2 separate regions of the Homo sapiens genome follow, and region 1 is linked to region 2. Evidence: fine-mapped expression QTL. A gene starts in region 2. The other region holds a variant in brackets. All regions are shown on one strand. Distances are between the middles of the regions. Region 1 overlaps MBNL3 (muscleblind like splicing regulator 3). Region 2 holds the start of RAP2C (RAP2C, member of RAS oncogene family).

The links. PIP is the estimated chance that this variant, and not a neighbour inherited with it, causes the effect.
Region 1: its variant is fine-mapped to the expression of RAP2C in whole blood (TOPMed, PIP 0.96).

Annotation. Positions count from the first base shown.
Region 1 is chrX:132,386,225-132,402,253 of GRCh38, reverse strand. It overlaps MBNL3 (muscleblind like splicing regulator 3), which reads left to right. Exons shown (of 9, transcript NM_001386889.1): 4 at 9,920-10,111; 5 at 11,171-11,407; 6 at 15,443-15,593. The region is part of intron 2 of RAP2C-AS1 (RAP2C antisense RNA 1); the gene reads right to left. Among named protein-coding and RNA genes, the nearest start is that of MBNL3, 95 kb to the left of the region's middle. The variant A/G (reference allele first, on the strand shown) is at 9,193.
Region 2 is chrX:132,215,471-132,231,499 of GRCh38, reverse strand. RAP2C (RAP2C, member of RAS oncogene family) reads left to right here and starts at 12,053. Exons shown (of 6, transcript NM_001271186.2): 1 at 12,053-12,130; 2 at 13,159-13,268; 3 at 13,488-13,584; 4 at 13,694-14,504. The coding sequence starts at 14,232. RAP2C-AS1 (RAP2C antisense RNA 1) reads right to left here and starts at 12,993. Exons shown (of 3, transcript NR_110410.1): 1 at 12,663-12,993. RefSeq lists enhancers at 7,218-7,747, 11,682-11,731, 12,062-12,131 and silencers at 13,564-13,613, 13,624-14,063.

The DNA.
Region 1 (16,029 bases), 170 kb before region 2:
TCTCTTTGAATGTGGTGATTCACATGGAAACAGATCCTGACACACAGGTGAACTTGACTCAGTAGAGTGTATTCATTTGATTATTTATATAGAGATTGTTGATTCAGCACATTTGAGGTTGCATTGGGATGTGCCAAGTCCTCAGGTTCTGTTGTATGCTATTCATGGCTGGCATTCCTGTGGCTAAGTTACCGAGTTCCAAACCATGAAGGCCATAAACAAGTCTTCCTCTCTAGGTTTTCCTTTATCTCAAATTGAATCATCTGATAGCTGCCTGGATCCCTCTCCACCTTTTTACATCATTTTCATAATTCTGTTTACCAAATATATTTCTCATAAACAGGCTTATATGTTTATCTAACATTAATATAGTAAGGAACGAAGGTGATGTAATGCTTCAGAACCAAGAGAAAAAAAATAATAGAAAGTTCAAATAGGTACGAGGAAGGGAGATATACTAATTAATGAATATTATTTTTAGACTCATGTTTTTAATGTTGTTTTTTTCTCTTTTACTAAAGGGCTACAATGTATTATATTACTTGGGTTTATATTACTTATAAACTTAGGACTAGAACAATTTTAAGTGACTGGAGATAAAATTGGAAAATATTTATTTACTTTTTAATTTTTTTTTTTTTTTGAGACACGGTATCACTCTGTGGACCAGGCTGGAGTGCAGTGGCATGATCATAGCTCAATGTAGCTGCAGACTTGTGGGGTCAAGTCATCATCCTGCCCCATCCTCCTGAGTAGCTGGGACTACAGGTGCACATCACCATGCACAGTAATGTTTTTTAAAAATTTTTTGAATAGAAATAGAAATGTGATCTCACTATGTTGCCCAGTCTGGTACTGATTTCCCAGCCTCAAGCAATCCTCCTGCCTTGACCTCCCAAAGTGCTGGCATGCCTGGCCTACTTTTTAATTTTTGTAAGTCAGTCATTAAATGATATAGTACTTGAAAACAAGAGGACAAATATTCATATTAGACTTACAGTTTTTTAGTTCACATAAATTTAGTTTATTGACTGAAATATTTATGCTATAAAAAAGAGTAGTTTTGTCATGGCTCTTTTATTAACAATTATTATTTTAAAAGGTGACCCAGACATTATGTAGGTTTAATAGAAAAGAAAATTATGTCCATATTCTAAATTACCAGTCTCATGGTCAGTACAGAAATTATAACATTTTAATGAAGGTTCTGCAGCAGGTTTTTCAGTTCACCTACTCATGTAATGATGAATGATGGCATTTAGTTCTTTCATCTTGATGTGGTGACATTACATGTTTTGTAAATGATTTTTGCAAAATTTTCAAGTTAGGAAAGACAAGCATTATGTAATTATAAGGTTAATATGCTCTTAATATAATTACAACAGTCATGATCATGTGAACTTCCGCATTGAGGTTGACCAAATCATATCACAGAAGTGCCTGGAGTGCTACCATGCCATGATCATCTGGATTTTACTACATTTTCTGAAAGATTAGACAAAATTTTACTTTTAGGTATATCAACTGAAGCCTACTGTAATCTGTTTGTTCAACTAACATTGTTTTTAAGGTGTACTTACCCTGAGACTAACATGAGGGGTTTAGGGATGCTCATTTGCATGGTTTCCTTCCAAAACCCTGAGAGGGGTCCTAGCAACGTGTTTAAAATGTGTTTGTAAAATTTGCAAAATATATTCGTGTGTTTCATTCTTAAGGCTCCACTTCCCCACCCAGTGGTCTAAGCTTCAGACCCCACATATCCTAGATTTGCTCCTCATTGCAATTACTGGTCCAAAGTAGAGTAGTTATTCGGGCCTTTTGCTAATAAGACTGTGTATGTCACATAGCTTAAAGCTTCTTTTACGTTAAAACAAAATAAATCCCCTAGCAGTCCCTTTGCTGCTTTGCCCCATCTCTGTTAATAGACACTGTGAAATCTGCTTTTTTCAAAAGTTGAATGAAAATGCTACACTTTTGCAGCCAAACAGAGGACACTTGTACATGATATCTTCTTTATTTTATTTTATTATTATTATACTTTAAGTTTTAGGGTACATGTGCACAATGTGCAGGTTAGTTACATATGTATACATGTGCCATGCTGGTGTGCTGCACCCATTAACTCATCATTTAGCATTAGGTATATCTTCTATAGTGTCCAGTTTCTTTGATAGTCACAAATCTCAACATTCTCCCTTTATCATCCTTTATATATTCCCGTGAGATAAATTACATGTAACCTCCTCTATTTTGTGTCCTTCTCCTCTGGGGCTGGTTAGCTCAGTTAGTTGGAGCCTGGTGCTAATGAGACCATGGTGGCCTGTGAGCTTCACTGTTCGTGGTCACAGTGTAAGCTACAGCCAGCTACCTTGAGATTGCTTGCTGTTGATCACAAATGAGGTGAAGGCTGGGAGTTTGGTGGGCTCTGTGAATTTTTTTTTTTTTTTTTACCTGCAGGTTGGTATGGCTCAGTAATTTGTCAATGAGAGGAGACCTTATATAAAAACCTGTGGCTGCCCTACCACCTGATAATTAAAGTGGTACCCCCAAGCATTTCTAATTTGCCTTAATATCCTGTAATCATCTGTTAAATATTCATTTACACCCTTCTTTCCGTGGTCTTCTCTCTTGAACCACTCTGGATACCAGTCACATTAGCAATTCATTAATCACCTGGATTATACACATTGTGAATTACTTTGTGTATAAAAAGGTGTGAATTACTTTGTGTATTACAAAGTGTATAAAAAATTACTTTTTATACACTTTGTAATAAAGTTACATATTTTTATCTATAGTATCACTAAATCACTTTTTTTTAGAACTCTTAATTAGGTACCTTCTAGTATGGATTTAGCCACTCCAATTTTAAAAATACATACACATATGGGATTCATGTATGTACATATGTACATATGTATGTATAAAATACCCTGTGCTTTTCATACTGTTTGATCTAGCAATTCATATCTTTATCAAAAGACAGCTTAGGACTAGCCATCTGCCTAAAGTCTTCCTCAGTGGAGAACAAGACTGAAGGATTTATTCAATTTCTTTGCCACCATTTTTGAAACTACTTTTACTTCTTTTTGCACTCTGATTTTTAAATTGGGTTGATCTATTTAGTAAATCAAAAATTAATTAATGGTTTAGGAATCCCTTTTTATTGAATTCAGTAAGTATTGAGCATATACTCTGTGACAGGTATTTAAATGAGTAAAGGGTGGATAAAAAGATGATCAAGAAACAAACTCTACCCTCTAGGAATTCGTTATGTAACAAAAGTAAGATGTTGGATGAATATTTTCTGGTCCCCTTAATTTCTGATTTGTACCTGATTCTTCATATTTTTGTAGCTTTGGGCCTTTCTTTTTTCAACATAGAATTATCTTTCTATTAGCCATGCAAGGTTCTGTTTTGGTTTGTGTTGTTTTGATGGTGGTGGTGGTGGTGGTTGTGGTTGGTCAAACCCTTGATAATTTTAAACTCTTAGCCTACCTATTTATCTAACTTTCACTGACATGTTCATAAATAGTCTCCAGGTTTCCTGTGGGTTCCTTGCTTTGCTCAGTTCTTCCTATTTATCTCCCAAAAACCCACATTTTGTTTATACCCTTTGTTAAAACTAGATAACCACTTAATTCTTTGAACTACTTCAATGAGGTATGATTGACACACAAAAGCTGCACATGTTCAATGTATACAAATTGATGACTTTGGAGACAAACAGATGCTCATGATACTATTACTACAATCCATGCCACAAACTTGATTTTTTAAAAAATAATCTTTGTTTCCTACTAGAATACTAAAGTTAATTGAATTGCCATTATTATTACACGGTGGTCACCAACAAATTTTTAGGTCAATTCCTGTTCACCTCCTCAGGAACAATGTCAAAGTTACCCTGCTTATAAGTGTCAATCATTTGCTCTCTTCCTAGGTGATGTGCTGATCTGTGTTTAGGTACTCCTTTATGATTCCTGGCCTGCTGTTGTATTTCTCCTCCCAGCAAATATGGGTAGCTCTGAACCATGACTTGTGTTCTCATTTGTGTTATTCTTTATACCTCTTATACTCACAATCACCTATTGATCTTTCAACTAACCTGCCTGCCTTCAATGGTTCCTCTTACTTGGAGAATTCTCTGATTAATAAGATCAGAAAATCCAGGTCTAGGTGAGGACAATGGTTCACTTTTGACCCATGAACTTTTTTTTTCTTAGCTCTCTCTAGAGCCATGGGGACTTATTCATTAACAAGTACGATTAGTACTTAAACACCACTATCAGCTTGCATCTGTTTTTAAAGTTAACTCTCAATTATTGAGAAACTAATTAACTAGTCTGGAGGTTATGTGGGTCTCCTGCAGCCTGCATTTTGGCCACTTCAGTCCCCACGGAACATTACTCAAGGAGTGTGGAAATGACCAAGCAAATACTGTGAAAGAGAGATTATTCAATTGTACTCTGTGTGAAAGTGAAGTCTGATGGAAACTAAAATTATGGATTTCAGTGCATTTTGGGATTATCTAAAGATAGAAATATGCATGATGACCGTAAAAAGAGCCTTCCTTTTATATTATATAAATGCTTGCAAATGAGCAATAAAATGAAGATATTATGACGCTAGTAAAATTTATGAGTGCTATTTTTCTTGTATTAAAATTGGGTCAACAAATTGTTACCAAATGTTTACCCTTCTGTAAAAGAAAATATCTAGTCATTCAACTCTAGACAGGAACTCAGAGATGGAAGGCCCCGATTATTCTGTTGACCTTAGGCCAGGATTTTGAAATATTTTACATTCATCCAACAATAATTGTAATTGATCTTGGATATTTTTGAGGTAACTACAAATAGATCTAGGCTATTGAGGAGACACAAAGATTGATTTGGCATAACATTTAATTTTCATTTATTTATACTAGCTTGAGAAATAACCTGTTAAGTCACTGTTCCTAAAGTGTGTGTAAACTAGACATTTATTTGAGGCATAGTTTTGCATTGAATTGCATTGCCTCAGAATCCTTTAAGAGCAATCTGTGGTGGCTTTTAAAATTTTTACCTTTACAGGATTCCAACTACTATTTCCCCATTCTTAGTCACGGAGTAGTGATTGTTCTATAAACAAATAGTTAAAAATCCTAATCCTAATATTAGTAACTATGTAAAAGAACATTTTAGTGAATACCTTAGTATTGGTTTACAAAGCCAAACATTTTCAATTTGTGGAATCTTGCTACAAATACTAAATTCATATACATATATATTCATATATATTCATATATATATGAATATATATGAATATATATATGAATGTATATATGAATATATATGTATATATGTATATATGAATATATATATGAATATATATGTATATATGAATATATATATGAATATATATGTATATATGAATATATATATGAATATATATATGTATATATGAATATATATGAATATATATATGAATATATATATGTATATATGAATATATATATGAATATATATATATATGAATATATATATGAATATATATGAATATATATATGAATATATATATGAATATATATATATGAATATATATATGTGAATATATATGTGAATATATATATGTGAATATATATGAATATATATATGAATATATATAGGAATATATATAGGAATATATATAGGAATATATATAGGAATATATATAGGAATATATAGGAATATATATATGAATATATATATGAATATATATGAATATATATAGGAATATATATAGGAATATATATGAATATATATAGGAATATATATATAGGAATATATATGAATATATATAGGAATATATATATAGGAATATATATGAATATATATAGGAATATATATATGAATATATATGAATATATATAGGAATATATATATATGAATATATATGAATATATATGAATATATATTTGGTGCTTTACTCCTGAAAGCGTTGGAGAATTTCATTTTTTGAAATCATTTAGAACCAAGGTCGGTGAACTTTCTTGTGAATGGCTAAATATAAATATTTTAGGCTGTGAGGTTCAAGATGCAAAGTTGAGGGTATTATATAGGTACTTATATAACAAGAGAGGAAACAAATATCTACAATTTTTTGTAATACAGCTCTACTAATGAGCACAATGAAATTTGTGGATGGACACTGGAATAAGAGTTTCCTATAATTTTCATGTTTCACTAAATATTATTCTCTTATTTTTTTCAATCATTTAAAACTGTAAAAAACATTCTTAGATTGCTGGCCATACAAAAACACAGGCAGGCTGAATTTGGCTTATGGGCCCTAGTTTGCAGAGCCTTACTCTAGAACAGAGATTCTTAACCAGTAAGTAGTTCATAACCCCACACCAGGGGTGAGTGTCGTGGGGTCCTTGAACTTGCTGAGATCACAAGCAACATTTTTTGCATACATGAATTTTTCTGTGGACAGAGTCTGCAGCCTTTATCTGACTCTTGGAGAAGTCCTGGACTCAAAAAAGATTAGGAGCCAGTGTTGTCTAGATATTTCGTTAATTTTTAGGACACATTTCCTGAGTGTCTGATAGTTCCTAAGCAATCTGCAAGTCACTGGGAACTCATGGGAATTTCTACTGTAGGAGCTAATACTGCTAGAGACATGGGGATAAATAGTTGTCAGGTGATCTTATTCATAAAGTCTGTTGCCACCACCATTCTTGCTGGTTGACAACACTCAGAAAGATGAAAATTTACACCTGGTTATGGGAGGGACAGCCGTCTCTTTTCAAGTATTTAGTAAATAATTTAGGTTGGAATTTAAATATCTGAAACATTTAAGTGTTCAGACCATTTCAGGCTGTAAAGATAAATCAGAGTCAGTATAGTTAAAACCTTTTCCTTTACAATAAAAATTAACCCACAGATAGGTTCATGTTAGCTCAACTGACATCAAGGGCTGAGATATATATAGAGACAGGATTAAAGTTGCTTATTAAAGCTGAGCTTCTGAGCTTGCAGGCTGCTTGACTTAACCCATGGCTGTTAGTCAACGCTAAGCCCTTGAATGTTCAAATTCATGAAATGGAGTAGTTACCCTGGGGCAGAGGTGGTGGTGAGAAAACAGAAATGTCCAACTGAAAATAAATAAGCCACTCAGGAGTTCCTGCCTCTGCCCCAGTATTGAGAATGGGATAGCTTGCTTCTTCTCAATAAACAGTGTTATAGAATGCATTTCATACTCAAGGAGGAAATAGTTATAAGAGCTAGGATACTAATTTTAAGATCTAAAGATAGCATAGTTTGTGGTGAAACCTTAGAAAAATCTAAATACTTTCAGTAAGCCCTTTACATTTTATATGTAGACCAATCATTAATTTATAGCCTTTTTTTCCATACACTTGGAGCATATAACAAACCTAAGAAAGTTTAAAAGTATTCCAAAGAAAGCAGAACTTAGCTAGGAGAATTTCCCTGGTGAGTCACCTCAAAAAAGAAAAGAAAAAAATTACAGAAGTAAAAAGCTACCATAAACAGAAAGCATTGCTTTCAAATACATTAGGCTTCAATATTGTTGATTGATCAGCATTTATTAGTGATTAATAACTTTTTAATCTGGAAAATTCACCCACCTCCAGGTCTTTCTTTCAGTTCAAAAATTAATAGATACAATAATGGTCCTGCTCATTTTTGTAAAAGGCAAGAGCAAAAAGTATGCAGGAGAATGGGCTGGTGGCTTCAGTGAGAAATTTACCAGGAAAGTCAGAGACAACGAAAAGTCAAGTGAAGAGCACTATCGTGTGCTTCAAAAATGGACTCTTTCTCATCAGAGATTCTTGGTGATCTTGAGACAACTATGAATCATTACATTGATAAAGTCTGCCTTATTGCGGAAGCATGCCTGGGTGGCTGTTTCCAGAAGATTTCCTTCTCATTATATAAAATCATGTCACATCAGCTAGTTCCTGAGCTTCACATCTCATTCCATGACAAGTATCCCGTATTCCTGTAGTCTATTACATCATAAGAGCTAGTTAGACTGGGTCAGCCCTTGGCTATTTGCCCCCAGACTTTAGAGTCCTTCTCCTGACTACACCATCATCTTTCCTGGCACCTGGCGTTCCCTTTCCACTTAAGGCTCTTGGCAACCATGTCTTTCCTACTCACCCTCGTGAGTCTTGCCAGTTTTTTGGTGCCAGATTCTTTCTGCCCTTCCTAATGTCCCAATCAGCTAATTTGATAAACTCATCTAAGGTAGAATGCTAATGGGGGAGTGCTTCCTTCTAAGCTGAATATGGTTTATAACAGAGTCTTCTTGGAATGCTGTGTGGGTGACAATTTCAAGTCTGTGTGGGGGTGAGGCAATGAGTATACATTGCCCTTCACTTTATATTCCACAATTTGTATTTAGACTTGTTTCTATTAATGTGACTTAGCAGGTATGGGCACAGTTTGGCAAATGCAACAGATTCGGGGGTTTTTTCAAGTGAAAAAATTTTATAAAGCAAGAAGGAACACATGCAATTAGTAATACACAATGAGACACCACCAGTTTCACAATAACTAACTTGTAGAGTCATTATTAGAAATATACTACATTTAGTCATGATTTATTATTCATTCATTAAGCTTTTAAAATGTATCATTGAGTATATCTGTCAACCAGTCATTCACTAAGTGTTGGGTACTATAGGGGAGATGAGAACTATCAAAGGAATAAAACCACATTGACAAGAAAAGATACCCACATGTGGAACAAACTGGAAAACAGCAAAGTGATAAATAATATGGCAACAGATAATAAAGGAAATACACATATTAAACTTTTTGAATCCAGGATCTTTGAAAATAGAAAAAGCAGTAATAGCTTTTTGCATTTCTGAGGTTTTTTTTTTTTTTACAAGTTACTCTAGTTTGTGTACCATATAATCCTGTTATCTTATCTCTTCCTGCCTAACAGGGATTCTTGTAGCATTTCTAGTGCCTTCTTTTGAACTATGAATATCATCTGGCCCCCTGGATAAAGACAAGGCTAGGCAAGTCAGATTAGCTTGTGAAACAGGACCTCTAGGATGACTACAGTAAACAATAATTTCTTGTACACTTAAAAATAACTAAAAGAGTATAATTAGAGTGTTTGTGACACCAAGGAATGATAAATGCTTGAGGTGATAGATACTCCATTTACCCTGATGTGATTATTACACAC[A/G]GTATGCCTGTATCAAAATATCTCATGTACCCTATAAATATAGATACCTACTATGTACACATAAAAATTTAAAAAACAGGACCTCTGATTTAAAAAAATAACAAAATATAATGGACCATACTAAACTCATTTTAGGTAGATATTAAAGCACTCACTTTTTCTAATTTATCACTTTCTTCCTCAACTCCTTGCTGTGTTCCATAATTGTCAGTGGGCCAGGAAGACAGAAGCACAGCCAGTATTTGGTAGTACAGGTGGGGCCTGTGGTAGGACAGGCAGCCTTACAGCCAAGCAGTATTGATGGTGAAGAGGAAAGAGGAAGGAAAGGGACTGAATGCAAAGGCCATGCCTGTGTAAGGAAACAAAGAAGATTGTCCATATGTGTAATGTCATTGGTGACATGGTTTTTAGGGAATAAAGAAAGAGTTGGAGGAAACACATTTGGAACAGACTAGCAGTGAGATTTAATTTGGATAATTCATGACTGTTAAAATCATGTGGCTTATTTTATGAGCTTACCAATAAAGTTAGTACGTAAAGAGATTTGTTGGTTTAAAAGCAACTCCTCTATGGGAATTAGTATGAGGCTAAAAATAAATCAGAAGAAAACAATAGTAAATTTTGATGTGGCATAAGTAATTTTGATGTTTCTGAAAGAATACCTCTTTGTGTAATGACAGGAAGAATCTTTACCTCTAACATCTTTTTTTCTCTTTTAAACATACAGGGTTCTTTTCCTATGACTCCATCAATTCCAGCTAATCCTCCCATGGCTTTCAATCCTTACATACCACATCCTGGGATGGGCCTCGTTCCTGCAGAACTTGTACCAAATACACCTGTTCTGATTCCTGGAAACCCACCTCTTGCAATGCCAGGAGCTGTTGGCCCAAAACTGATGCGTTCAGATAAACTGGAGGTATTTGTGAACATATATATAAATACCTGTAGAATAGATATTAACCTTACACATAAAGCAGTATTCTCAGAGCCCAGTGTGTTGTTTTAAATAAGAGAACCCAAATTTCTTAGCTTATAGGGTTGTTAAACATTTTAGTACTGCAATCATACCTTGTTATAAAGTGCATTGATTCACCTGTATGGTAGGTCAAACAATATGTTAAGTGTACCCAGCCATAGACTGTGCGATGGCACAGGAAGCCTCTGTGGGAATGTTCCTTTTACCTAGGCTCCAGCTTTCAGAAACAGATTACTATATTTGTTAATGAGTCTCTACTTGCTAGAATAATCAAAGTGGGAAAAAAGTAGACAATATAACTCTCTACGATTGCAGAATGTAAAGCTATATGAACACAGAAGGTAAATTAGTCTCATAGTGCCTCAACTTTTTTCTCCATTTTGAGAGTGATGTGCTAGGCAGTAAATAACCCCGATGCCTAAGAAAAGAAAATCTGAAAGAAATTTCAAACAGCTTTTTGATTTATTGAAGTCCTTCATTCTTCTATTGTTATTCTTTGTACATTGAAATAACTAGTCTTTCCTTACAAAGTCAGCTCCATTTGCAGCCGCTTAAATGCCTAGTAATGTATTGTAATATAATCTGATTGTACATATAACTCAGTTATGGTTCACAAGTTGACTTTGGAAAACCAGTGCATTATGGTGTGATAAAGACTCATCTTGGACTTAAAAAAACACTAATTATGCTTAAGGCTGTGTATTAACTGGAGAATTAAAACTGGTTTTCAGTAATACTTTTTTAAACATTTTTATTTCAATGTAAGGACAACCTCCTTTTGGGGAGAATAGAATTTTTTTCTGGGAATAGAAATTCTGTCTGTTTATATCTCATAGTGAATATGGCTTTACATTATTCTTTATCTTTTTAGATTTGTTCACACATAATATATTCAATGTATATATAATTACTGTTACATTCACTAGCAAAATAAATAAAAGCCAGTCAGCTTCCAGTCATCAGTGTGATGCGTGTGTATGTGCATGTGTGTGTTCTAAGGTTTGCCGAGAATTTCAGCGTGGAAATTGTACCCGTGGGGAGAATGATTGCCGCTATGCTCACCCTACTGATGCTTCCATGATTGAAGCGAGTGATAATACTGTGACAATCTGCATGGATTACATCAAAGGTCGATGCTCGCGGGAGAAATGCAAGTACTTTCATCCTCCTGCACACTTGCAAGCCAGACTCAAGGCAGCTCATCATCAGATGAACCATTCAGCTGCCTCTGCCATGGTAAGAAAAGGCCTGCACTTGTGGCCTGTTTCAGAGTAAATGCTTTGTATATTCCTCAATTTGTCTAATATCCTGTAACCATACTCATGGATGGTCATGAGAGGACCTTAATATGAACAGTCAAGGTTATAAGCTGGAAAAGAAAGAACCTATTTATTCTACTTTATTTACTAAGATTTTCTAAAGATAATTATTTAAAAGCCTTACTAATGCTTTTAACCTACTGTGCTCTTTCTCCCATTTTCAGAGTAAGGGTAAATTATATAATTTAAACAGTAAGTTATTTTTGAGTGCTTTTATAGTTTCACTACCCTCAATATCCTAGAGAGGCAGAAAGTTGCCTCTGCTCTGTGAGCCACTTTCATGGGCCCTTTGCTACTAACATCCTTAATGCCTTTCAAAAACACAGCACTTAAAAGATAGGGTATTAAGTAGGTTGTAATTTCCTAAAGGTTAAGGCCACTTTTCCTCTCTAGAGGCATAGTATCAAGGACAGCAGCCTGCTTAGTCTGGGGGGAAATTTCTACGTGGTTGGGAGCAGAGGCCTGACTTTGGTTTTTTTTTTTTTTTTTTTTTTTTTTGTTGTTGTTGTTGTTTTGTTTTGTTTTGTTTTGTGGGGGTGGTTGTGTGTTTTTTGTTGTTGTTGTTTGTTTTGAGATGGAGTCTCACTCTGTTGCCCAGGCTAGGGTGCAGTGGCGTGATCTCAGCTCACTGTAACCTCCGCCTCCCAGGTTCAAGCAATTCTCTAGCCTTAGCCTCCTGAGTAGCTGGGACTAGAGGCGTGCACCACTGCTTCTGGCTAATTTTTGTAGTTTTTATAGAGGCCGGGTTTCACCATGTTGGCCAGGCTGGTCTTGAACTTCTGATCTCAGGTGATCCTCCTGCCTCAACCTCCCAAAGTGCTGGGATTACAGGCATGAGCTACCGTGCGCAGCCCAGAGTCCTGACTTTTAAGTTGCTGTAGAAAGCCAGTTTTGGGGGAACAGTTAGTGCTGCTTAGTAATACTGAAAGGTAGGAAGCAGGAAAAATATTTGTGTAACACTGCAGTGTGATCACTGAGAACCAGGAATTCTCGTGACTTAAGTTTGCCACAGCTGTCCGTTGTTTTGATGTGCTGCTTGCTATGTCTTTCTTTTTCTCCCTGGACCTTTCCTTGTGTAATAAGGCATAACAGCCCCAGTAAAGGACAAAACCCACAGGAAACCTCATGTTCCCTGGGTGTGGAAAAAGCACTGACATGACCCTGAAGCCCAGGAGATGCACTGTGAGCTAAATCTCCTCACAAACATTCATAGTTTGGACTCCCATGACAGAGACTTTGCCTATTCACAACAGAGAGACACTTATTTTCAAACATCCCTATTAAGAAGGTTTTCCTCATACCGAGTTGAAATTTATCTTGCTGCAACTGGAACTTCACAAAAGAAGTCAGTCCCTATTCCAAGTGAGAGTGACTCTCATGTCTCCTGTCTAAGCCAAATACTGCAAATTGCTCCCTTTTCCTGGTAGTTTATGGTTTCAAGGACACAGTACCATTTTTGGACTGGCTCCACTTTTTGTCAGAACTGAACTCATTACATCGTGAAGGATCTGAGCACCAAAGTAGAACAAACTTACTTTCTCCCTTGATCTGAACAACATAATCTGTTAATGAATGTTAAAAAAGACTTTACCAAATTCTTTTTGTCTTAAATGCTTTTGAAGGGGTAATTATAAGCTATGAAAATAGCTTCATATGCATCTGTCCATTTCTGATTATTTGAGTGTGTTTGATAGAATGCATAGGTTACAAGTCAGCCTCAAATTTCCACGTAGAGAGCTAAATATTATATCATAGGCCTTCAATTGTTACTTGTGAATATCAATATAAAATTCCCTTTTAAGTAACTGATCACAGCAGGGTCTTAGCAGTGAGATCAAGTTGGCTCATAAGAATTTGATAGAGGTAAGATTAAATAAAGGAGGGCTTCATGAAGAAATTCAAGCTTTTTATATTTTTAAGGATTCATAGTGGACATGCTTTATAAAAGAGACATTTTTACCTTGTTCATGTATATAGCTCAGGTTGAGTTCACAGAAAGCAGCTTGTATTTAAAAAAAAAAAGAGAGAGACATAAAGGGTTGATACTTAGTTCATCCACAGTCTCACACCTCTTCGGCAGGTTTATGAGTTTAATAGTACAATCACCACCCAATTGGAACTGGGCACTGACCCATCAGGATAAACCCCAGCCATAAATAAACAAGCAGTACTACCTTACCAGCGTCTACCTGTTGAATGTTCATCTAGGTTTCACCCCAATTTGTAGTTTACTAGGGAACATAACTGGTTCTGATGATCATACCATGCTGCCAACTTTCAAGAGAGAGAAGGGGACACTCCCCGTTTATACCAAAGGGAAATCTTTTTAACAACCAGATAAGTAGGTCTTCTGTCTTAGTTAAAATGTTCAGCAAAACCATTTTCTCCCAATGGTAATAAAAGGCATTCGAAATGATAGATTTTGTTTTATGGTTTATGATTTTAGTACTGACCTTTGCCATCTGGTCTGCTGGGATAAATTTGGAAATTTTATATCTCTAAAGCTACTCAGTTTATTTTATCTCACTCTTCTAGCATGCTTTTCTTTATTTAGGTGAAATGAAAAGCAGATCTGTCACAGTGTGTGCACTGACAGTAGAGTTCCCAAAAGAAAATAGAGATACCTTGAGACCTTTGTTATCCACAGGAACGAGGTCATGGCATTACCCTTTTGGACACATGGTAGGATAGTTACTCAACACAAGCATTCCTGTTTCCTTAAGAATTTGGAGCATACCTAATTGTTGTTGCTGGGACATGTTTTTTAAGTAACGTGCAATTTGCTGAGAAAAAAAAAATGTAAAGTAATGTTAAACTTCTCCAAAGAATCTGATCCAGGGGCAAGTTTCACGGAGTATTATAAGCACAGTGGGATTTTGAAAGAACTGTAGACATGAAAGGATGGTTTAAAAATGCTAATAGGTTTTAGAATTAAACCTTACAAGAACTTAACAAAGCAAATGGTACATACCGAAATGGACAGCAAGCCTCTATAAATAAGAACTGCATATATTTTGCTAACTATCTACATAGTACCTGCGTGAGGTAGGTCGTGGGGGAGGAAATATTCATTTGCTTTTTCCTTACATGTTAGTTAGGAAATATATAATTATAGGACTTGAACCTGAAGTCTTTGTATAAACTGGATTTTATTTTATGGGGTGACAGTGTCAGACTCTGATCTACCAACATCTGTTTTATCACCTATATGCCATTTATGTCCTAGATCTGTATTGGAGTTTTAACAGGCAGAAATCTCTTTCCTGCTATATCTGTTGCTTCTGCTAATCTCATTTTTATAGATTCATAGATGAGTATCCCTGAGATATTAATTATAAATGATTGTTTACTGTAGTAGCTTTCTGTCATATCCTGCCCAAATGAGGTCTAAATTAGTGAAGTTGAAAACCTTTTTTTTTTTTTGCATTTTTTTTTGTTTTGCACTACTGCTCATGTAGTTGGACTACCTCTTTTTTTTTTTTTTTTTTTCTTGAGACAGGCTCTTGCTCTGTCACTCAGGCTGGAGTGCAGTGGTGTGGTCTCAGCTCACTGCAGTCTTGACGTCCTGGGCTCAAGCAATCCTCCTGTCTCAGCCTCCCAAGTAGCTGGGACCACAGGCATGCACCACCATGCCTGGCTACTTTTTCTATTTTTTCAGAGATGGGGTTTTGCCATATTGCCCGGGCTGGTCTCAAACTCCTAAGCTCAAACAATCTGCTGGTCTCAGCCTCCCAAAGTGCTGGGATTACAGGCGTGAGCCACTGTACACGGCTGTGAACCCCCTTATCTCTACATTTGGTTACCTTGCTGTGGGGCCACTGCTTATCCAGTGTCTTGCCCAATGCATACCCTTACGGAGGATTCCCAGGAAATACCTTATATGACTGGTGCTTGCTTGGTTTGAGTACATTTGTTACTTTCTCTAGTACTAGTACCATCTCTCCCCCCACAGGCCCTGCAGCCTGGTACACTGCAACTGATACCAAAGAGATCAGCACTGGAAAAGCCCAATGGTGCCACCCCGGTCTTTAATCCCACTGTTTTCCACTGCCAACAGGCTCTGACTAACCTGCAGCTCCCACAGCCGGCATTTATCCCTGCAGGTGAGAACACAGCTCTAGGCACTGCAGCGAGTTTGGTGATGTTGTGAATGTATACAATGCAAAACAGCTTTCAAAGAGCTTGTATAGGAGGACTGTCGACATGTATTTTGATTAAAAATAAAACAAGGAAGTTATGCTTATCTGCTAGTATCTAGAACTACTTGTTTTTCTATAATTCATGAAAATTCATGGTTTGAAATCAAACTAGGAAAAAGTATCAACATTTTTCTTTTTAGCATTTGTTGGTTTTTGCTTATGATTAATTCACTTGGTTCAGTCTCAAACTAATTCCTTGACTCTTAGGTATCACTGTCACAGACAGTAGAGTGCTGTCAAATAAAAAGGCAAAAACTCCCAGCTTCGATATTATGGAAATGCGTTGTCAATATGTCTTTGATATGCCAAAGGTAGTTAAAATAAAACTACCCTAAGTGCA
Region 2 (16,029 bases):
AAGGATCTAGACATTTCTCCAAAAGAGATATACAAATAACCAATAAGCACATGAAAAGATGCTCAATATCATTAGTCAGTGGGGAAATGCAAATCAAAACTACAATGTGTTACCATGTCACACCCATGAGGATGATTACAATCAAAGAGTGAGATAATGACAAATGTTGGAGAGGATGAGGAGAAATTTCAACCCTCATACACTACTGGTGGGAATGTGAAATGGTGCATTCACTTTGGAAAATGGTCTGGCAGTTTTTCAAACGGTTAAACCTAGAGTTGTCATATGACTCAGCAATTCTCAACTCAAAAGAAATGAGGCCAGGCATGATGACCTGTAATCCCAGCACTTTGGGAGGCCAAGGCAGGCAGATTACTTGAGGTCAGGAGTTTGTGACCAGCTTGGCCAACATGATGAAACCCTGTCTCTACTAAAAATTCAAAAATTAGCCACGCATGGGTGGGGGGAGGGAGAACATCAGGAAGAATAGCTAATGGATGCTGGGCTTAATACCTAGGGGATGGGATGATTTGTGCACGCCTGTAATCTCAGCTACTCTGGAGGTTAAGGCAGGAGAATTGCTTGAACCCGGGAGGCGGAGGTTGCAGTGAGCTGAGATCATGCCACTGCACTCCAGCCTGGGCAGCAGAGTGAGACTCCGTCTCAAAAGAACAAAAAGAAAAAAAGAGAGAGAGAGAAATGAAAACACATTTTAAATTTGTCCACATTTTAAAATTGTACACAAGTGTTTACAGGAGTCTTATTCATAATAGTCAAAAGGTGGAAGCAACCCAATTGCACATCAACTGACAAATGGATAAACAAAATGTGGTATATCAATATAATATAATATAATATAATATTATTTGGCCATGAAAAGGAATGAAGTACTGATATATGCTATCACATGGATGAAGCTTAGAAACATTATGCTAAGTGAAACAAGCTAGTCACAAAAAACCACATATTATATGATTCCATTTATATGAAATGTCCAGAAGAGGCAAATCTAGAGAGACAGAAAGTAGATTAGTGGTTGGTTAGGGCTGCAGGAATGGAGATAGAGAGACAATAGCTAGAGTACCTGGCTTCTTTTTGAAGTGATAAAAATGTTCTAAAATTGTGGTGACGCACACACTGGGGCCTCTCAGAGGGGAAGGTGGGGGTAGGGAGAGCATCAGGAAGAATAGCTAATGGATGCGGGGCTTAATACCTAGGTGGTGGGATGATCTGTGCAGCAAACCACCATGGCACATGTTTACCTATGTAACAAACCTGCACATGCTGCACATGTACCCCAGAACTTAAAATAGAATTTGAAGAAAAAAAATGTGGTGATGGTTGCGTAACTCTGTAACATAATACTATCATTGAATTGTACCCCTTAAGTGGATGAATTATGTGGTGTGTAAATTATATTTCAATAAAGCTGATTTTTTTAAGAAAAAAGAATGCTGCCAATCCATAGCGGGGAAAAATGAAGATAGGGGAAAGCCCTCTGGGCAGAGGTAATATATAAGGCATATGCAAATAAAATATGTACAGAACTGTGTAAACAGTTTAATAACATCATCACTATTTAACACCTACCACGTTGCAGGCACTTTTCTAGACCATGGGATATTCAGTGAACAAAATTTACAAAAGTACCCATCCTTGTGGAGTTTACATTGTAATAGGGGAAACATATTAAAATCCCTAAAGAACATAGTACATTAGAAAAGTGTAAGTGCTAATGAGAAAAAAATAAATAAGACTTGAAGGTATTGCATGAGGAGGGGGTGCAATGTTACACAGAGTAGGAGCTCTTGAGTAAAACAGCTGAAGAAAGGAAGGAAACTGAGAATCTGGGGGAAGAACGTTCTAGATGGCACAGCAAGTACAGAGGCTAGTGTAAGAGTATATCTATCATTTATGAAGAGCCAGATTATGTAGTGCTTTTTAGATTATTGTAAGGACTTTGACTTTGCTCTGAGTGAGATGAGAAATTACTGTAGGATTTTGTGGCTATAATGGGATCAGTTTGGCTACTGCGTTGAGAATAGATTGAAGGAGGCTAAGTTCACAAACAGCAAGAGCAATTAGAAGAATACAATAATCATCCAGAAAAGTGAAAATGGTGGTTTGGGCCAGATTCTTAGCAGTGGGTGTGGTAAGAAATAGTCACATTTTGGACATATTATGAAGATAAGAACTTCAGTATCTCCAGATGGGTTGGATTGTATGGCATAAGGGGAAAAGAAGACTCTAGGATGACTGGAAGAGTGTAGTCTGTGCAACTGGAAGCTGGAGTTGCCATTTACTGAGATTTTTAAGACTGCAGAAGGGAGGCTGGGAATGGTGGCTCATGCCTGTAATCCCAACACTTCAGAAGGTGCAAGCAGGAGGACTGCTTGAGCCCAGGAGTACGAGACCAGTCTGGGCAACAAAATGAGACCTCATCTCTACAAAACATACACAAATTAGCCGGGTATGGTGACGCTTGCCTGTAGTCCCAGCTATTCAGGAGGCAGAGGTGGGAGGATTGCTTGAGCCCAGGAGGTTAAGGCTACAGTAAGCCATGATTGCACCATTGTACTCCTTCCTGGGCAACAGAGCAAGATCTTGTCTGAGAGACAGAGAGAGTGAGAGAGAGAGAGAGGAAGGAAGGAAGGAAGGAAGGAGGGAGGGAGGGAGGGAGGGAGGGAGGGAGGGAGGGAGGGAGGGAAGAGAGAGAGAAAGAAAGAAAGAGAGAGAAAGAAAGAAAAAGAAAGAGAAAGAAAGGAAGACTGACTGCAGGAGAGGCATGTGTTCATTTCTGAGGAGAGGTGGTTATCAAGATTCAGCATTGGACATGTTAAATCTGAGATGTCTGAGTAATACAAATGGAACTATAGTATAAGTATGAATCTAGAGTAGCGGTCCCCAACCTTTTTGGCACCAGGGACTGGTTTTGTGGAAGACAATTTTTTCCATAGAGGGTGGGGAGGTGGGGGGCGACAGCAGGGGATGGTTTCAGCATGAAACTGTTCCATGTCAAATCATCAGGCAGTTAGATTCTCATAAGGGGCATACAACCTAGATCCTTCGCATGCGCTGTTCACAATAGGGTTCATGCTCCTATGAGAATCTAATGCCGCTGCTGATCTGATAGGAGGCAGAGCTCAGGCGGTAATGCTTCCTCACCCACAAGTCACCTCCTGCTGTGTGACCCAGTTCCTAACAGGCCACAGACCGGTACCGGCCCATGGCCCAGAGGTCGTGGACCCCTGATCTAGAACTATGGGAGCAGTCTGAACTGGAGATGTAAATTTGGGAGTCTGCAGTATGTAAGATGGTATTTAAAGCCATAAGACTGGGTGCAAATTCACTGAAACCATGATGATTTTATTTGTACTAGAACATAAAGGATGTGAAGGTGGGAGATGTGCTTGGAAGGTAGGCAGGAATAAGAATATAGAAGACCTTATATTTCATGCGTATAAACTTGGGCTTTTTCTGATAGAGAGTTGTTGAAATCAGCAGAAATATGTAGTTAGACTTGTTTCAAACAGACTTGTTTCATAACACTGGTAAAAGTATGCAGAAAACACCAGAGACATACAAACGATTTAGGAGGCTATTACAGCATTCAGGAAAGAGTTGTCACACAAATGTTTCTCCAGTCCCTCTACACACTAGAGCAGACATAGGATATGACGGATGTAAGAAAGACTAAGGAGGTAGACTTGGCAGGACTTAATGGGTTGTTTGGTTATAGGAAATGAGGATAAAGGAAGAGTTAAGAGTGATATTTTATATGGTTTGGATCTGTGTCCCCATCAAATCTCATGTGGAAACGTAATCCCCAGTGTTGGAGGTGGGGCCTGGTGGAATGTGATTGGATCATGGGGGCAGATCTTTCATGGCTTGGTGCTGTCCTTGCTATAGTGAGTCAGTTGTTGCAAGATCTGGTTGTGTAAGAGTGTGTGGCACCTCCTGCTCTTTTCCTCTTGCTCCTGCTTTCCCCGTGTGACCTGCCTGCTCCTGCTTGACCTTCCACCATAAGTAAAAGCTCCCCAAGGCCTCCCTAGAAGCCAGCAGATGCACATGCCATGTATCCTGTACAGCCTGCAGAACCTTGACCCAGTTAAACCTCTTCTTTATAAATTACCCAGCCTTAGGTATTTCTTTCTAGCAACACAAGAATGACCTAAAACAATACCCTAAGTTCTACTTTCAATGACTGCTGGATGGTAACACCATTTACTGTGACAGGAATCACAAGAAGGGGGGAAAGCTCTGGATATTAAAAGGAAAAAAAAACCCTATGATATGCTAAAATTAACATAGTAAGTTTGAGAAACCCTTAGGATCAGCCTGGGTTCTCAAAGCTAGCCTCTAAGTTAATTTTGTTAATCTTGTCATGTGGGAAAAGCATCCACTGAATTTGTCTGCACAAGCACTGTGGTTGGCTTGAACACTACATTTCTATGTAAAATAATTTAATATTTAGACTTTTAAGATCTGGTTTACAGGAGTGTACCTCACCACCCCATCCAACCCTCCAAACTTCTCATTCCCCAGCTTTCTAGCTGACACAAAATTGAGTCCCCAGCCATTCAATGCTAAAGGTCAAACGGTCTTACATTGAATTCCTTGAGCCATGAGGATCTCTGTAAGGTGCCTACTTGAGCAGCAGCAACCCAGCCTCTCTCATGCTGACGTTGTCATGGCAACAAGGAAGTGTGTTGTCTCTTCTTTTTAAAATCCAGACTATGTATTTTATTTTTATTTTTATAAAGTTTGAAATATATGGAAGATTAGGCCGGGCATGGTGGCTCATGACTGTAATCCCAGCACTTCGGGAGGCCAAGGCAGGAGGATTGCTTAAGCCAAGGAGTTTGAGACCAGCCCAGGCAACATAGCAATACCCCATTTCTACAAAAAAAAAAAAAAATACAAAAAATTAGCTGGGCATGGTGGCACATGGCTGTAGTCCCAGCTACTCCGGAGGCTGAGTTGGGAGGATCACCTGAGCCCAGGGAGTTCGAGGCTGCAGTGAGCTATGATCATGCCACCGCACTAAAGCCTGGGTGACAGAGTGAGACCCTGTCTCAAATATATATGTGTAGAAAGAAAAAAGAAAAGAAAAAAACCCAAAGTGGGTGTTTTTAGTTTAATCTTTTGCTGACACCTAGTGCCAGAACTCTGCATATTCAGCTACCTGCTCCAAATAAGAAAAAAATAAATAGAATTAACAGGATTTTAAAATTGCCATGAATTTGACAAAAAAAAACCCGATGATTTATTTTAGCAAACAATATTTATCTTATCTTTACATTATACTTTTCACATCATTTCCCACATTTAAATAACAGCCTTTTAAAGTATTCAGACTCCAGGCCTTCTAAATGTCTAAGAATTCAATGTTGAGGCAATTTCTTTCTATTCTCATTTTTGGTTCCCTGCTGGGGGAATTGCTAAGAGTGCATAGAGGCCCAAGTAGTTCAGAATTCAACTCTTTGTAAGTTTTAAAGTACTTAGAATAAATTCCCCTTGGAAATTGTATGGGATGAGTCTGGAGTCCACGATGTTTTCATAACCGTGCTTTTCAACCATTCTCAATTTCACATTATGGGTTTACACTAAACAGTAAAAATTTGGCCTTGCATGTAATTATTATAAGTGCTCATTTCTAAAGAGGAATGAATTTGTAAATAAAGGGAGGGAAGAGTGACTTTTTATGGCATGAAATAATTTTGAGGAGAAACACGATTTGTATATACATCATTAAAAATAGGGCTTAAACTATGTGGTAAATAAAACTTGTGGGCAGTAAAAGAATTCAGGAGGATTACATCTGTGTTTGAAGGTGTTATAGGTACAGAGGCAAAGGAAGAAATGAAAATGCAAGGTTTGTAAAAATGAATGAACGAGTTTTCTGCTTGAATCTGCATCTACCGGCTGTGTGAACTTAGTTGTGTGAGCCTCAGTTTCCTCATCTCTAAACTAGAGATGATGATGACAATGTGCTTGCCTTATAGGGTTGCTGTAAGGATTGAAGTACAGAATTTCTGACATGTGGCAAGTGCTCAATAAACAATAGTAGTAATAGCAGCATTAAAAATAACTAGGCTTACCCCAATGCCTCCTCTTACAGAGTCTAATATTGTCCTAGTGTCAAAACAAGGGGGCTCCTTGTTGTAAATGTTCCAGAGCACTTTGGAAAGTAACTATGACCACCTCAGGTTCAGTACCAGGTGCCACAGATCCAAGGTCAAGGGGCCCCTGGGAGGTTATAGAGGCATGTTTCCAGAGGGCACTTGAAATCAGTATGAACAGTCAGTCTTACTCGAGGGCAGAGAAACAGGGTAATAAAGTCTAGATTCTTTAACCTTGCCTCACTGCCCATTCGCTGCCCTGTCCTTCAAAGAAACAAAACTGCTTTCTGTGGAACAAGGTGGCTAATATAAGATAGGCTCAGACTAACTTAGGTTTGAATTCAAACTCTACCACTACCCAACTGTTCGACTATGTACAAACTAACTTCTTTGAGCCTTAATTCCTTTGTTTGTAAAATTGGGAATAATAATACCTAACTCTTAAGGTTATTGCTAGGATTAAATGAAATGATGTGCATAAATCACTTTGCACAGTGCCTCGCAAATAATCTGTAATCAAGAAATTATCATCAGGCTGGGTGTGGTGGCTCAAGCCTGTAATCCTAGCACTTTGGGAGGCTGAGGCAAGTAGATTGCCTGAGCGCAGAAGTTCGAGGCCAGCCTGGGCAATATGGTGAAACCCCATCTCTACTAAAAAATACAACAACAACAACAAATTACCAGGGATTCTGGCATGCACCTGTAGCCCCAGCTACTGGGGAAGCTGAGGCAGGAGAATCGCTTGAACCCAGGAGGCGGAGGTTGCAGTGAGCTGAGATCGCACCACTGCACTCCAGCCTGGATGACAGAGCAACTCTGTCTCCAAAACAAAACAAAACAAAAGACAAGATAAACTATTATCATTACATGATTAAATCATCCGACTTGCCACCACATCAAATATGGCCTTGATATTGAGACTAGCTTGGCAATTTCAAATGGATTTTAATAATCTGAGAAGCCTGTCTTACACGTCATTTCTTTCTATGGTTTAAACCTGATCATAAACACCATTTGTTAAACACCTACCGTATGGTGGGTACTTAGGCACTTTTTCTTACTTAATCTTCACATCAAATATGGCCTTGATATTGAGACTAGCTTGGCAATTTCAAATGGATTTTAATAACCTGAGAAGCATGTCTTACATGTCATTTCTTTCTATGGCTTAAACCTGATCATAATCACCATTTGTTAAACACCTACCATATGATGGGTACTTAGGCACTTTTTCTTACTTAATCTTCACAATACCCAAATAAGGTAGATCTATTAATATTTTCCCTTCACACATGATGAAAGAGAAGCTCAGAGAAGGTAAGAAGTAACTTGCCTCAGGCTACATATGCAGCACAGCCAATGGTTGAACCTGGCATGGATGTCGCTAGCCCCTGATTTTGTATACCGCAATTAAGACCTTTGTAAAAACACATTCCATGGCTTCCTACAGCCTCCAGGGGAAAAGTCAAACCCCTTAGCTTACTACTCAAGGCTTTCCCCTATGGTTCTAGCCCCTACCGATTCTTCTGGCCTCCTTGCCTACTGCCCAATCACCTTCTCTAGGAAATCTTCCCTGATACCCTTCCTAAGTCTCCCATAACACCCTGGCCGATATCTGTATCACAGGATGTGCCACGCTATACTGTAATGTTGATTGTATTGTCTATATTCCTCAAAAATGCTAGTAAAGTGCTTGGCACAGAGTAGGAATTCAATAACTGTGTGATAAATGAATGAGTGGATACATTAATGAGTATCAAGCAAGAAAGCCCCAAATAATGTCCTACCGCTTTACAGAACAGTGGTGCTTAAAATGTGGTCCCTGGGCCAGCAGCAACAGTGTCATCTGGGAACTTAGATATGCAAATTATAGATCCTGACCCAGACCTACTGAATAAAAAACTCTGGGGTTGAGACCTGGCCGTCTGTGGTTCACATCACCTCCAGGTGATTCTGATGTACATATATTAGGAGTATGGGAGTATAGTTATTATTAGTACTAATTCTTTAAATTTATTTGGTACTTGATAGATTACAAAATAATTTTCTAACTACTATCTTTCAAATCAAGGATGAAGTGGAGAGGGAAAAATTGTTAAGGAATTCAGATCTATTTTAAACACATCCCTATTTAGTACGCCTCTCAGTTCTGAGAAACTAACTTTGTCAGCAGTCGCACAAATTTGTGACTTTGTAGGAGTGTCTGCCTGGCCAGGTTGGGGTAGTGTCCTCTGTGGTCAGCAGCACCTCTAGTGAAATCTCATTGATTGGATGAAGGATTCCAGGTGAGCAAAATTGAATGTGATTAAATTCTCATTGATGCTGTAGGAAAGCTAAAGCTATAGGAAAAAAGGCTTACTCATGTAGGGGATGAGGGATACATGAGTATTTTTTAGTGCTTTATGCAGACATGATGTTTCAGTAAGTGAAAGAAGCCATTCACAAATTTATATGAACCCATTATTAGTTTACAAAAAAAAAATGTTCTTTAACTCTCTCCAGAAAAAAAATTGTGAAAGACACTAAAATGTTAATAGCAATTTTCTCCAGGTAGTGGGATTATACTTTTATAATTTTTTGCAAATAACATTATTTTCATGAGAAAAAAGATAATAATAAAGGTATAAAATTGGTTTTGTGTACTGGGGGAGCCTGACATGCAGAACTAATGATTAACTAATGATTGGTGTAGCTGGAGGCAGGATTTGAAAGAGAAGATTGGAATCTTAGAGGGTAGGAGCTAGAAAGAATCCAGGACAATTTAGCTGATATCAATGGGGTCCCTAAAGCATTGAAATAAGATTTCTGTAGGCAAAGACTGAGGACATTACTGGCTCAAGCTTTCTGGTAATTCAAGAGCAACTTCTAGCAAAAGAGAAGGGAAGAGCCTGGATGGAAAATAGATAGCCATGTATAGAAAGTAGATGGATAGCCATGGGTTTTTTCCCAGGACCTAGAAGGCAAGACGGCTCATTTGGAGAGTGGAAGTTAGGGTAAAATATCCCAGGCAGTTGGTGGCTCCAAGGATTGCAACTGAAGGAGGTAACAACTCGAAAAGAAGAAAGGGATAAGTAAGCAACTGGTGCCTGTAGCAAACATCCAGCACTTTAAACTTGTGCCAAACTAATTTCAAAAAATGAGATTATGGCCCTATTACTTATATTATCTGCATATAGTGCATACACTGTGGTTTCTTCACACTATGGTAAAAATGGGTTGTGTTCTTTAAAATAATGCCTGAGCAATACTTTGGAAAGGAGGTTGATGCAGAATTAAAGCAAAAGTTGTGAATCTCAAGGGCATGATCTCTAGAGAAGTCCTCCCATTCCCCTCTTCCCATATTCAAGCCTTTGGAGTAGAAAATTATTACTTGAGCAGTTTCTATTTATTGAGCAATTAATATTTGGAAGGCTAAATGCTTTGAATGGATTTCTCATTTATTATTCTATGAGTTAGATACTGCTATTATGCCCAACTTTACAAATGAAGGAATGGAGGTGTAGCTTGCAAAAGGGCAGTGTTAGGACTGTCTGGCTCTGAAGTCCAAATTCCTTCTAAAACGCTGCCCTGCATTTGTTAGTCCTGAAAATACCCTAAAGCAAGTAACAATCACTATAAAATGCTAAAATTAGTAATACCTACTGTGAGGTTATAAAATGATACGGTCATACTGCATTGGTGGGAATGTGAATTGGTGTGACCTTTCTGAAGGACAATTTGGCAATACTTACCAGAAGAATTTTAAGTGCAAGTGCCTTTTGTTTCAATTATTGAATTACTAGAAATTCACCCTAAACATTAACTGACAATGATATATGTCCAAGGCGTTTAGTGCAAAAACCTAGAAGCAATCAGTGTCCTTCAAAGGGGAGCTGGCTAATTAGCTTATGATACAGCCATGAAATAAAAATTAAGAAGGCCAGACATGGTGGCTCATGCCTTTAATCCCAGCACTTTGGGAGGCCAAGTCGGGAGGATCCCTTGAGCTCAGGAGTTGGAGACCACCATGGGCAACATAGTAAGACTCCATCTCTACCAAAAAAATTAAATTAAATTAAATTAGCTGTGTGTGGTGGCATGTACCTGTAGTCCTAGCTACTCGGGAGGCTGAGGTGGGAGGATCCCTTGAGTCCAGGAGGTTGAGGCTGCAGTGAGCTATGATCATGCTACTGCCCTCCAGCTTGGGTAACAGAGGGAGACACTGTCTTAAAAAAATTAATTAATTAAAGTTTAAAAAGCAAGGTAAAAAATAGTGTGTACAGTTGATTACTTTTGTAGTACAGTAATTTTTAAAAATATATATAGAAGGTAGATTGATACACTGACATATGAATAATGTTCCCCCCTGAAAAACATAAGAAGCTTTTAACAATAAATATCTTTGTGAAGAGTAACTGAATTATTATTTTCGTGCCACTTGCAGATATTTGAGCTTTTAAAATTTTGTTACCCCCATGTTTGCTATTTTTTAAAAATTAACAATTCATTAAATCTTTTAAATAAAAACCAAATAGCATTTATTGAGGCTTTATAATGTGCAAGGGACTGTGCTAAGCACTTTACCTGTAATACCTCATTACATTTTCACGTTAACTTCTTATCTCCTTTTTACAAGTGAGGAGTTAGAGGCTCAGACAAGTGAAATCACTTGCTTGGGGACACAGAGCTAGAATGTGGCGGAGCTGCAATTTTAATGCACCTCTGTCTCATTTCAGAGCCTTAGCTCTCAACTGCCAGGCCGCACTCTTCTGCTTGCTCTTTATACCCTCATTGCTTAATGAGAGTACACTAGCAAACAACAGGAGTCTAATGAGATAATGTATGTGAAAATACTTTTCTAAGTATAGAGATGTTTGGGGAGGGCAAGCAAGGGTAGGGAATTTGTTTAAATTGGGCGGACCTGTCCACTGACCCCTAGACAGTCAGGATTTTTTTTTTTTTTTTTTACAAAACCAAGATCAACAACTTTCTTTTGTTCCTCCTTTAAAAATATTATAAAGTTATATTTACTTCCTTTTTCCCAATTATTGTTTATAAATTAAAATATGGAGAAATAAAAGCCATTTCATAATAGTCCTCACCCATAATTACTTTGTTTCAGATTTGAATGGCTATGTAACTATTACACACCTGCGTTTTACATAAACAGTAGCAACTAGACATTTGTTCAGTATCTTGCTTTTTCAGCCCTACAATATATCTTGGCCATCTTTTTATATAAACACTTACAAATCTGCTTTTCTCTTTTAAAGTAGCTGCATAATATCCTATTCTGTGAATACAGATAGGTAGGTAGGTAGGTTGGTAGATAGATAGATAGATGATAGATAATAGATATAGAGAGCTATGAAACTTTTAAAAATCACCTACTGAAGGACATTTAAGCTTCTTCCAATTGTTTGATTTCCTAATCAATGCTGTAATGAATACCCTTCCTAAGAAAGTTTAGAAGGATCTTTAGACTGAGTGTAATATTTGTCCACTGTAGTTGACGAGAGTGACCCCACAGGACGCTGTACTGAGGGGAGGAGTATGTTTCACTGCGTGGAGAAACAAAGAACTCTCTCCTAAGCATGACCAACACATTCAGAGATATTAGAATTGCCAACAGGTGGGATGACCTGAAAAAGAACTCCTTGCTTTGACAGTTTAGTAATAGAGCAAAGACTTGCCACGATTGCTCAACACTGGCTGGATCAGAAGAGGAATTTCCAGACTCAGTTACAAGCACGGCTGGTGGAGGGCTGTGAATCCCACCAGACAGTCTGGAGACAGCTAGGCAGGGAGATGAGCAGCAGAGCTCCAAATCAGGCAACAGCACGTGTGAAAGGAGCAGTGACCTGTGGGGAAACTCATAACTCACAGACCAAACCCCTTCCAGCAGAGGGCAGTGCCTCTGATACGACACAGGGCCCAGGCCAGCTGGAGCCAGAGCTGGGGACTTCGCTGGAGAGATGGCACCGGCCTGAGGTCAAGGAGAAATTGAACTAAACTCTCCTTTGAAGACTGTAAGTGACATTGGGGAATACTCAGGGAGGGACAGTGGGACCTCACACTACTATGATTCGCCTGTGTTCTAATGTCCAACAATTTAGGCTGAGTAATAAATCTCTTTATAGAGTTTGGCCATTTAGGGCTTGTAAGTAAGGGAATTTGGAGTCATTTTTGCTAGGCTGGCCACTGAGTCTCGCAGGTTTCTGGGTACATGCTTGAATTGAAAAGAAAGTGACACACCTAAAATACAGCCTAGACTCCTGGCCCTGGGGCTCTGTGGATCCGACACAAAGTTTACAAATAGAAAGCTAGCAAAGGGAAAGATAGTCGGAAGTAACAATTTTATCTAAAAATAGAAACTTAGAATCTAACACCAGAGTTACTACTTGCTTTTGAATTTCAAAGACTACATAGGATGGCCTTTAAAACAAAACTTCAGCATGTAAGAGCCAGCCAAGCAAATTGTTATACATAATCAACGATTAAAATAAATTAGTCTTTAGGCCTAAACCGTTTCCAATCAAATCTTTCTTGAATATTGGTTACCTTTTCTGCCGTGTAGTGGTTGGAATCAAATGAGAACATAGCTGAGCAGAGTACCATAAAGTCTACTTCTAATGCTGCTGTTTTCGAGCCTTGTGATTTTTTTTTAAGTGACTTTAGTATTCGCTGGTAAAGTCAAGGCGGATCTACCAGACGGTAAAAGTTCTGTGTGTTTGTCAGGCACGGCTAAGTAAAACGCACTGCATCTGAAAGTCTAAGGGTAGTTTGCATGCATCTCTCAGCAAAATAGCAAGTGGAAGAAATACCAGCAAGGAGAATAAACTTTCTGGGCTGTTTGATTTCCCCTGCAACTTCTAGTCCAGGGATGTTTGGCGTTCTCCCGGTCGCTAGATTATTAGCCCGCAGGTTCCGCACCGGCCAGGGAGCCGCTCAAGTCCTAGGGCCGGGCGGCTGGAGGTTGCAGGTCGGAGGGGCTTCTACGGGTTTGGGGGTGGGACGGTCCGCGGCAGCCGCGGGCGGGTAAGGACTGACGTCGCAGGTTTCCAGAGGCCCGTTCCCGAAGCCGGAGTCCCGACCCGAAACCGTCCCCGGCCGGCTCGCTCGCTCAGCAGGGCGCGGCTCCAGCGCCACCCGGCTCGCCCCGAAGAGGTGGGACTTTCCCCACCGGAAGTGATCCCGTCCAGTCTCGGGGAACTGGGGCACCTCAGCCAGTGTGTCAGGGAAACCCTTCCGGGTGTGTGCTTGGTGGGGGTGGGGGTGGGGGTGGGGGTGGGGGTGGGGGGTGGGTGAGAAAAAAAAGAGGTGGGTTCGCCTGGAGTCCCTGCGGCCGCCGCGGAAGGCCCCCGCTTCTTTCCCCGCGGCGAGCAGCAGCGCTGGGGCAGCGGAGAGACAGAGGAGCCAGCGGGTGGCCATGGCCTTGGCGTGACAGAGCCTCCCCGGCGGCCGGGCGGGTGCGGACGGCGGGGTAAGCGGCAGTAGCTTGATCCGGGTGGGAGTTGGGGGAGGCGGCGGCCGGCGCCGCAGGTTCGGGGCGGGGGTCAGCCGGGTAATGTGCGTCCTTCTCCCCTTCACAGGCCGGACGACCCCCGCGGGAGCCGGGGCCCAGAAACCCGCCCGGGCAGCGGTAACTGGAACGGAGCCCTCAGGCCTGAGCCGGCTGGGCTGCGCGAGCAGGAAGCGGGGTCCCTGGGCCCCTTTGTGTGAAGGGCGGGGGAGGAGTGCCGGGCAGCCCCGGGCTGCGGGCTCCTCCGACGTCCGCCTCGCCGCAGGGTCCCCTCGCCGCAGCCCCCACCCTTTCCCTCCCGGGGGCACGCGCCTCCTCGCCACCCTCGCCGGGCTTTTCCCAGGCTCGCCCTCCTCCCCACGCCCCCTGCTCGGGCTGCAGTTCCTATAGGAAGGGCATTACCATCCCTTCCCCACCCTCCCCGACTCTACGCTCTTTCCCCTCCCCCTCCTGTAACTTCCTCTTCTTCCCCGGTTGGGCCCTCTGCTCCTCTGCACTCTCCTCCCCAGTTCGCAGATTTCCGCCCACCTTCCGCCTCGTCTAGCCGCGCCACAGCTAGCGGGGTGATCTTTCCCCCCCTCTGGTAGGAGTTGGTGAAGGTGAGACTCATGAGGGAATACAAGGTAGTGGTGTTAGGGAGTGGAGGGGTTGGCAAATCTGCCCTTACTGTGCAGTTTGTCACTGGGACTTTCATTGAGAAATATGACCCCACCATTGAAGATTTCTACCGCAAAGAGATCGAAGTGGACTCTTCCCCCTCCGTGCTGGAAATTCTGGACACCGCAGGAACTGAGCAGTTTGCCTCCATGAGAGATCTCTACATCAAAAACGGCCAAGGTTTCATCCTGGTTTATAGCCTGGTTAATCAACAGTCTTTTCAGGTAACCAAACCAAGTCTTGTAATTTGTTAGAAGGGGGTGTGGTAATCCGACATCGACTTCTGGGTTGCTTGAACCGTGCATTAATGACTGTGCTTTGCTTTTGAAAGTTAGACATGACGCATTTTTGAGGTTACTCCTGCCATGGAAGACTATCGGGTTGTTTCTATAGAGCGTAGTAAAAAGTAACAAGCGTCAACAAATATTTTAAAGCTATTTTTAAGTGAAAGAAAAGTGAAAAAGAAATGTCAGTCTGTGTATATTTCGCCTGGAATATAACCTTCTGAAGTTGCTTGCTCAATTCAACAAGTATTGATTAACTTACACGACAAAACATCTAACAAATAATCTCGGGTAAATAGAGCACTTTGAAAAAATTATTTGGAGCCGATTATCTGTTGCACAGATAAGTCCTCTGTGTCTGTCCCACCCACACCTTCCCCTCCCACCCCCCAACACCCCCTCCCGCCGCCCTCCCCTTCTCTCTCAAGTTTCTCAACTAGATTCATAAATCTTAGTGTTGCAAGACGAAGAACTCAAGACCTGCCTTCTAGGCATTTTACTTAATTACTTGGGGCGTGTAGTAGGAAGAAAAGTTACTAATAGAAAAGACTAGTACCTAGAATTAATAACCAACAAAAATCAGGAATGACTCTTTTTCTGCAGTTGATCCAAATTGTTTCTGGTAACATTGCCTGTATTTACAGAAAATACGTGGGTCTGGGAACACTGAACAAGTGCAGATTTCTTACTCCGGCTGGGTGGCCAAACTGGATGTGGTCCAATCTCTTAGAAAATCTGTCCTGTCCTTCACTGGGAAACAGACTGAAGGTTTAACGTTATTTTAGGATATGCAATGTATGTTTCTATTTATCCCTTGAAAATGAATAACCTCATATTGACCCATTATATTGACCTCCATTGATTTAGGAAATGGATATATTTTTTCTGCATTTAAAGGTATGCACTTAATGTAGCTTACTTAAGAGACCTTAAGTGCTTTAGCCAATACAATGTGCTAATTCCACTTTCTTTAGTATTTTAAATTAAAGTACTATAGTGAACTTTCCCAGTAACCTGATAGAACAACTTCAGGGATTTTTTTTTTTTAAGATGATAAATTCTGGGGAAATAAATCAAAGCTATTGAGACCAAACTAAATTCATTTTATGTAGGCATAAATTCCCAAACAATAGTATCATAAAAGCATTTTCCCCCAGAAAGTACCAAAGTACTGAAGGTGCTGTTTGACAGGCATTTTTTCCCTAAAGGATCCTCAGGAGATTTGTTATTCTATCAGCTTACTCTCTGGAGGCTGAGAGTCTTTTGAAGGGTGTTTCATAAGATTTCTGTTATATCCATTTGTGTTATAGACATGAATTGGGAGTGAAAAACTGTGCCGTTATTTCAGTGGAGGTGTAAACTCTTTTGAGCCCAAATGCCCTAAGTTTGGATTTTCAGCTGAACTTATGTTTCCATAAAGACAATGGGAAATAAGCGTAACCTAGAAATCTGAGTTGATATATTA